Linked DNA regions of Homo sapiens. The protein of the gene in region 2 purifies or fractionates together with the protein of the main gene of each other region. This does not show direct contact. Each region holds a gene or a part of one and is shown on either strand. Other genes may lie near its edges.

Region 1 (3,500 bases), on a different chromosome or scaffold from region 2:
ACAAAAATTCGCCGGGTGTTGTGGCGCACTCCTGCAGTCCCAGCTACTCGGGAGGCTGAGGCAAGAGAATCACTTGAACCTGGGAGGTTGCGGTGAGCCGAGATTGCACCACTGCACTCCAGCTCTAGGCAACAGAGTGAGACTCTGTCCCCCCGCAAAAAAAAAAAAAAAAATTTGCTGGGAGTTAGGATATGGACTCCTATTGATAGGGGTATAGAAGAATATTTCTATTTACAGATGAATAGGCAAATGAGATAGTGGGAGAGATAGGTTGCCCTTATAGCCTGGGGTCATTACTCAGGTCCCTAGGTGCTAGGGAAACCTAGCCACAGAGGCGAGCAGGCAATCCTGGTGGCTGCTCTGGATGGCACAGGAGGCTTTAGGTGAGGGAACTATAAGGCTCTGGCCCAGCCTCTCCATTATTCCAAACTCCCAAAGACTATTTGCAGCGCAGCCGCCTGCTTGTCATCTGTTCCCCTTAGAAGGGTCCCTAGATTCCACGTTCTCTGTTCCTTCCTACATTCTTCCAGCTTCCCTGTAGATACTCCAACTCTTCTTTACCTCCCGACTGCATTTCTCCAGTCCTTTCTCTCATTCTGGCCCTTTCTCCTTTAGCATGCTGAGCTGTCCTTAGCACATCTGTATGAGATCTTGTTGTTAGACAAGCGTTTAAGGAATAGGGCCTTGGGGAAGGAGGCCATTGGAGGGGGCTCCTGCTTACACCTTGTCTCTCTCTGCTCATAGCCATCTCCCATATGATGTCACCCCGGAGCAGGCCTTGAGCCACCCCGAGGTCCAGAGACGACTGGACATCGCCCTACGCAACCTCCTCGCCATGACTGATAAGTTCCTTTTAGCCATCACCTCATCTGTGGACCAAATTCCGTATGTGCAACAGCCCCACCCCAGCCTACGCATGGGATTTCAAGAGGGCCAGGCCACCATGGGGAGCAGAGCAGGGTGATAGTCCTGCAGGGAGGAAGGCAGGGAGGGAGATGGAGCCAGGGGTACTCAGAGGGGTTCCTGAAGAGATGTGGGGAATGCTCGAAGCTCCTGCTAGAGAGCTGAGCTGAGAGACGGCGTGCAAGTCTGTGTGTGGCCTGGTAGGATGTCAGTGGAACCAGAGGAGGGACCCTAAAATGATCTCAGGGACACTTTATTAGCTAAGAGCAAATGAGGAGAAAATGGGACTCTTCAGTTCCCAATATCAAAAATAAATATTTTAAGCCCATAAAGTACTTTATAGTTCTCTCTTTTCTTAAAATTTAGTCAATACGTTTGGTTTTCTACATTTATTTTTGACACATGATAATTGTACATATTCATAGGGTATAGTGTGATGTTTTGATACGTGTATACATTGTGCAATGAATGATCAAATCAGGGTAATTAGCATATCTATTACCTCAAACATTTATTTCTTTTTGGTGAGAACATTCAAAATCCTTCTAGCTATTTTGAGATATACAACACATTATTATCAACTATAGTCACCTTCTGTGCAATAGAGCACCAGAACTTATTCTTTCTACCTGGATGTAACTTTGTACCCATTGACCAACCTCTCCCCATCCTCTCTCCCCTTCTCCTACCCTCCCCAGACTCCGGTAACCACCATTCTACTCTCTACTCCTGTGAAATCACCTTTTTAAGATTCCACATATGAGTGAGATTATGCAGTATTTGTCCTTCTGTGTTTGGCTTATGTATGTCACTTAACACGAACCTCTACGTTCATCTATGTTGTCGAAAATGACAGGCTTTCATTCTTTTTTTGTTTGTTTTTCTTTATTTTTTATTATTATTATTTTTAAGACAGGGTCTCACTCCATTGCCCAGGCTGGAATGCCCAGGGCAAGATGAGGATGTTGAAAGGGGGAACCCACAGAGTTTATAACCCTGCTCCCCAAACCTGGAGAACCGGATTAAGAGTTTACAATTAGGAGTAAGAAAAGATTGTTCTAGGCTTAAGAAAGTAAAGTACACAATGAGCTGTAAACTTCTGTCTCTGGTACCCTAGGAGTGGAAATTGCTTTTAAATGAATTTAATTACATTTGTAGGTGGCACATCCATAATAGGAATAATAATGATAATACAGTCTAGCACATTTGAATAGTACTCTACCATTATACGTTACTCTCGCAGACATAATTTCACTTGATCCTCAAAAAGCCCTGTGAGAAGAGAAGGCAAGAATGATCATTCCCATTTTCTAGACCAGGGGACAGACTTACAAAGGAGAAGGAAATAGTCTAAGATAATATCTCTGGTTGGTGGTGGAGTCCAAACTGGAGCTTCTCCTCCCGGCTCACTGATCTCCTTGGGGCCCTACCTCTAGCCCAGACTAGGCCACTCACAGATGCTCTGTGACAGCTGACAAGGTTGACTACCTCGGAGCCACCTAGGCTGTCCTAGGACAGGGTTTTGGCTGTGAGTGTCAGATACCCAAGCTTTAGGTTAATGGTGCCTCTGGGGGATGGGGGATGGCTATGGTGAGCTGGGGTGCTCTGCAGGGGACCCAGAGAGTCTCAAAGAAGAGGTTCTCGAGCCAGGTTGGAGGCTGTGTGAGAGATTTAGTAGATGATAGGGCCCTGGTCCTGACTACTGACATAAGGCAGGAGGAAGGGACAAGGCCCAGAGACGTTTGGAGGAAGGCAGCAGGGAGCTGGCTATGGCTAGTGGAGGGACAGTGCTTGAGCTCTACTCTGGAGTGGCTGAGCCTGGGGGAGAAGAGACAGCCAGGCACTCAAGCTCTTATCTCTGGCAGAGAGAGATGGGCAGAGGCACAGCCACGCGCACCTGTTTCTTTGTCCCCAGGTATGGGATGCGATATGTGGCCAAAGTCCTGAAGGCAACTCTGGCAGAGAAATTCCCTGACGCCACAGACAGCGAGGTCTATAAGGCAAGTGTTGTCTCCCCACCCCCACCTCCCAATCCCTCCTTTGCTTTGCTGGTACCTGCAATCCCCAGACTGAGACAAAAACACAAAAAATCCTATGCCATAAAAATCCAAGGAGGGAAATATGCTGCCCCCTATAAATGGAGCCTGGCTCACCCGCAGGGCTTCAGGTGGCAGATGGCTCATGCTGGGGTGTGAGCGAACAGAGTGGGCAACACTGGCTTCTTGTCAGGAGATCTGGGTTCAAGTCCCAGCTCTTGCTCAGGTTTGCTGTGTGGCCTTAAGCAAGTTGTCTGCCTGCTCTGGGCCTGTTTTCTTTGAAGTGAGGGGGTTGGCCCAGGTGTCCCTTCCAGCCAAGCAAGCTGAGAATGTGGGGCCGCACCAGTCAAGGCGGCCCCTGGACACTTCTGGGAGAGTCTCCTTTGCCCTCAGGTGGTCGGGAACCTCCTGTACTACCGCTTCCTGAACCCAGCTGTGGTGGCTCCTGACGCCTTCGACATTGTGGCCATGGCAGCTGGTGGAGCCCTGGCTGCCCCCCAGCGCCATGCCCTGGGGGCTGTGGCTCAGCTCCTACAGCACGCTGCGGCTGGCAAGGCCTTC
Region 2 (4,020 bases):
ATCACTTGAACTCAGGAGTTCAAGACCGGCCTGTATGACATAGAGTGATCCTATCTCTACCAAAAAAAAAAAGAGAAATTAGCTGAGCATGGTGATGTATGCCTGTAGTCCTAGCTACTTAGGAGGCTGAGGTGGGAGGATCACCTGAGCCGGGGAGTTTGAGGTCACAATGAGCTATGAGTGGGACACTGTACTCTGGCCTGGAGTGTGACAGTATGACACGCTATTTCTTAAAAAAATAAACAAAAATAAATAGTACCCATCTCATAGGACTGCTGTGAAGAGAGGTGAGTTACTCATGGAAGATGCGCAGAACAGAGCTTGGCACATAAAAGAGTTTGCTATTACTGTCACCTAGGGCAGCAGTCCCCAACCTTTTTGGCACCAGGGACTGGTTTCGTGGAAGACAATTTTTCCACGGATGGCAGGGAGTTGGGGAATGGTTTCAGGATGAAACTTCCACCTCAGATCATCAGGCATTAGTTAGATTCTCATAAGGAGTGTACAATTTCCATCCCTCGCATGCGCAGTTCACAATGGGATTCGTGCTCCTATGAGAATCTAATGCCACCGCTGATCTGACAGGAGGCAGAGCTCAGGCAGTAATGCTGGCTCACCCACTGCTCACCTGCCGCTGTGCGGCCTGCGGGTTGGGGACCCTTGACGCAGGGCACACATGAGGGGGCAGGGGCTGGCGCTGGGCCTCACCGGAGGATTTCTGTGCCGGAACAAGTCTTCCTCGGTGAGATAGGCATCCACAGGTGATGGTGTGCGCTCCGGGGTCAAGACCCCCATCAGCAGCTCCTGCAGCACTTCGCGAACGACGGTGACTGCCTCATGGGCAGTCAGCTTGCTCTGCAAAAGGGAAGGTGGCAGAGGATGGCAGCCCAGGCTATCAAAACCAATGCATCCTTCAGGAAGTTGGAGCCCCCAGGACTTTGTGCCTTCCTAGGGTCTGAGTTCCTGCCATTGTCTCTCTCTCTCTCTCTCTCTCACACACACACACACACACACACACACGCCTGTTCTAAGACCTGAAAACCTCTGAGTCTCTCCAGACATCCTTGTTCCCTAAAAATGGATGAAAAGGATCCAGAGGAGGGCCAGTTCCAGTGACAGCTGCTGCTGCCTGGGGCCTGGTGGTCACACAGTTAGCATGTCACCAGATTAGGAAGAAGGGGCAGGGCACATAGTGGGGGTGCTTCTGAGGATGGTGGTGAACCTTCATCAGGCTTCAGTGAGTGTCACAGAAACACGGGAGGGGCGCCTTGTGTGAGACATGGGTTGTACAGTCAATGAGTAAAGCAAGCATGACATTGTCAAAATTACCTTTGATCACCACTGGCTGAGCCCCACATGAAGGAGCCGGCCTTGTGATTGGGGGCCACAATGAATAAAAAAGCACAGCTTTCCACCAAATCCCAGGATGCACGGCTCAAATGGCCACACTGTGAAACTGACTGCGGACGACAGATTCCAAGCTCCCACCTCACACTCACTCGAGTTGTCAGCTGATTGAGTGGGACGGTGGGCAGACTCATGCTGCTATGTATTAATTAATTATTCTCCCTGGTTTTGAAGTCTTGTCGCTTAAATGCAACTCCACTGTGTAGTACCAGACAGCGATGAACAAAACACAGACCAGTACATAGGGCCACACATTGTACTTTACAGTCTGCCTCTTAAGGCTCAGTCTAATTTCTTTCTAACTCAGTGGGGCCATGCATGGCATTGCTGCAAGCTGCTCCATGCCTGCCTAGCCAGCGCACCCATCTTTTAAATCACAAGCCCTGGGAAGTGTTTGTGGAGCAAGAGTAGTTACCTGTTTGCTAAAAATCCAATTCTCCTCTTAGGCTGGGAGAAATATGATCCCTTCAGTCACTGCCAGGAAGAACACCAGGATACCCTACCTGATGTCCACAGGGGCCATGGTCCTGGGTCCCTTACCTCCAGTACTTTCCTCTCATCCTCAAAAACGTCCTGGGTCAGGGAGACCGCGTGGAGATTGACCTGCAGTATAGCACCTCCTAATAGAGTAGGATGGGTTCGAAACTCCCAAAATTCCCTGAAGACCCCAGCAGTCAAAGACTTGAAGAAGAAGGTAAATGTTTTAATTTCTCCAGGCAGAATCACACCTGAGAGGGACAGAGACCCGAGGTTTTCAACATGCAGGAGCTGGCTGAGCCCCAGGCCTACATGCTCCTACATGCAGTTAACTGAGTCCCAGGCCAGGTGGCTGGCCAACCATCCCAGTTTGCCCAGGGCTGAGAGGTTTCCTGGAATGTGGGAATTTGAGTGCTAAAGTCCCAGGCAAACAGAGACAGCTGGCCATCCTAGCCCCAGGCCTGTGCACCTAGATAACTGAGCCCCTAGAACGCTTCTGCTCCCTGGTGGCTCACCTCCCCAGGTTCTCAAGTTCCATCAGTCTCTCAACAGACATGAGTAGTCAGGCCACACATTTCACAGAAGGAATGAGAGGGACAAGGCAGGGAAGCAGGGCTCAAACTTACAGGAGCTGGGCCATAACTAAACTTTGATGTCTCACGGAGGACAAAACCAGCCCCAGACAGGAGCTAGCACATAGGGTGGCTTCTCCCGAGTACCTTCCCGGTTGTCAAAGTAAAATCGCTGCATCCTGTTTTTCTTAAGGTCTTGGAAAGTGTCCGGCTGGTGCTGCCGTCGCCAGTCATACCAAATGGCCACGGTGCCATTATTGACCACAGTCAGTTCTGAGGAGGTTTTCTCGCCTTCTAGGGTTTCAAAGGTCAAGTGAGCAGCAATCCCAACCTGCCTCTGGAAGGAGGAGGGACAAGAAATGTCTTTGCTGCAAACCCTGGCCTAGAGTGAACAACTCATCTGGTCTGCCCAGGACTTTTCTGGCTTTAGCACTGCAAGTCTCGTGTCCCAGGCCTCCAGGGCTTGGCCACTGTCACACAGAGTGGTATCCTACTCCAGCGTGGTTGTCTCTGAGGTTACCCTCAATAGCAAGAAGAGAAGATAAAACAAATATATATATATATATTTTTTTTTTTTTTTTGAGACAGAGTTTCGCTCTTGTCACCTAGGTTGGAGTGCAATGGCGTGATCTCAGCTCACTGCAACCCCCGCCTCCCGGGTTCAAGCGATTCTCCTGCCTCAGCTTTCCAAGTAGCAGGGATTACAGGTGCCCACCACCACGCCCTGCTATTTTGTATTTTTAGTAGAGATGGGGTTTCACCATGCTGGCCAGGGCTGGTCTTGAACTCCTGATGTCAGGTGATCCACCCACGTCAGCCTCCCAAAGTGCTGGGATTACAGGCGTGAGCCTCTGCGCCTGGCCAGATAAAATATATTTTATATCCAATGAACACTTCTATTCCTTAGCATCTGAAGAATATTTTGGAACCTTCTTAGAGCCATACCTACTTGAGTTTGCTTGTTTACATGCTTGGGGGCTGGGTATAAGCCCCAAGTGGCTTATGACACTCGCAGCCTTGTGATTTTATTCTTGCTCAAGTCAGTGTTGCTGTCACCATTTTCAGACGTGCTGAATGCACGACCAGATAAAAACCCAAACAGGAGACTGTGCAGGCTGCTGGTAACTGCCAGTCACCTCAGGGCTGCACCCCTGAGGGAGGCTCTCCCAGCAGGTGTGGTGGAGGCTGTTTTACCTTGTCCTGTGGATTACTGCCTCTGATCCAGCAAGCTGGCTTCCCACAGAACAGCAGAGAAGGGCCGAGAATAGGCATGGAGACATCAGAGGAACTGGCCAATGTGCCTCTGTAAGAAAAGCCAATGACTTATTTTCTCTTAGGCTGCCACAGTCATGCCATGTGGAACCCCACAGAAACGGTCACCAGGAAGCCTAGAAACACAACCAGCTCTACCCTGCAATGGAGTATGATCAACTCCACTCCCACGCAGCTTCCTCCTGACCCATTGCTGTAGATGGGAGATTCTTAGAAACACACAGACTCTTTAAGCCCTCTTGCCAGAGCCACTCACAGTACACAGAAATACACAGACTCTCCATGCCAGAGG

What was found.
Region 1: the proteins of MYCBPAP (region 2) and IQGAP3 purify together in Homo sapiens (affinity purification with mass spectrometry; one large-scale study listed by BioGRID and IntAct). This does not show direct contact.

The regions. Positions count from the first base shown.
Region 1 is NC_000001.11:156,534,566-156,538,065, reverse strand, and holds part of IQGAP3 (ras GTPase-activating-like protein IQGAP3), read left to right. Parts: intron 1-744; coding exon 745-885; intron 886-2,818; coding exon 2,819-2,903; intron 2,904-3,332; coding exon 3,333-3,500.
Region 2 is NC_000017.11:50,521,712-50,525,731, reverse strand, and holds part of MYCBPAP (MYCBP-associated protein), read right to left. Parts: intron 3,760-4,020; coding exon 3,651-3,759; intron 2,978-3,650; coding exon of another isoform or gene 2,930-2,977; exon of another isoform or gene 2,800-2,929; intron 2,794-2,799; coding exon 2,604-2,793; intron 2,136-2,603; coding exon 1,948-2,135; intron 856-1,947; coding exon 709-855; intron 1-708. UniProt on the Homo sapiens protein: May play a role in spermatogenesis. May be involved in synaptic processes.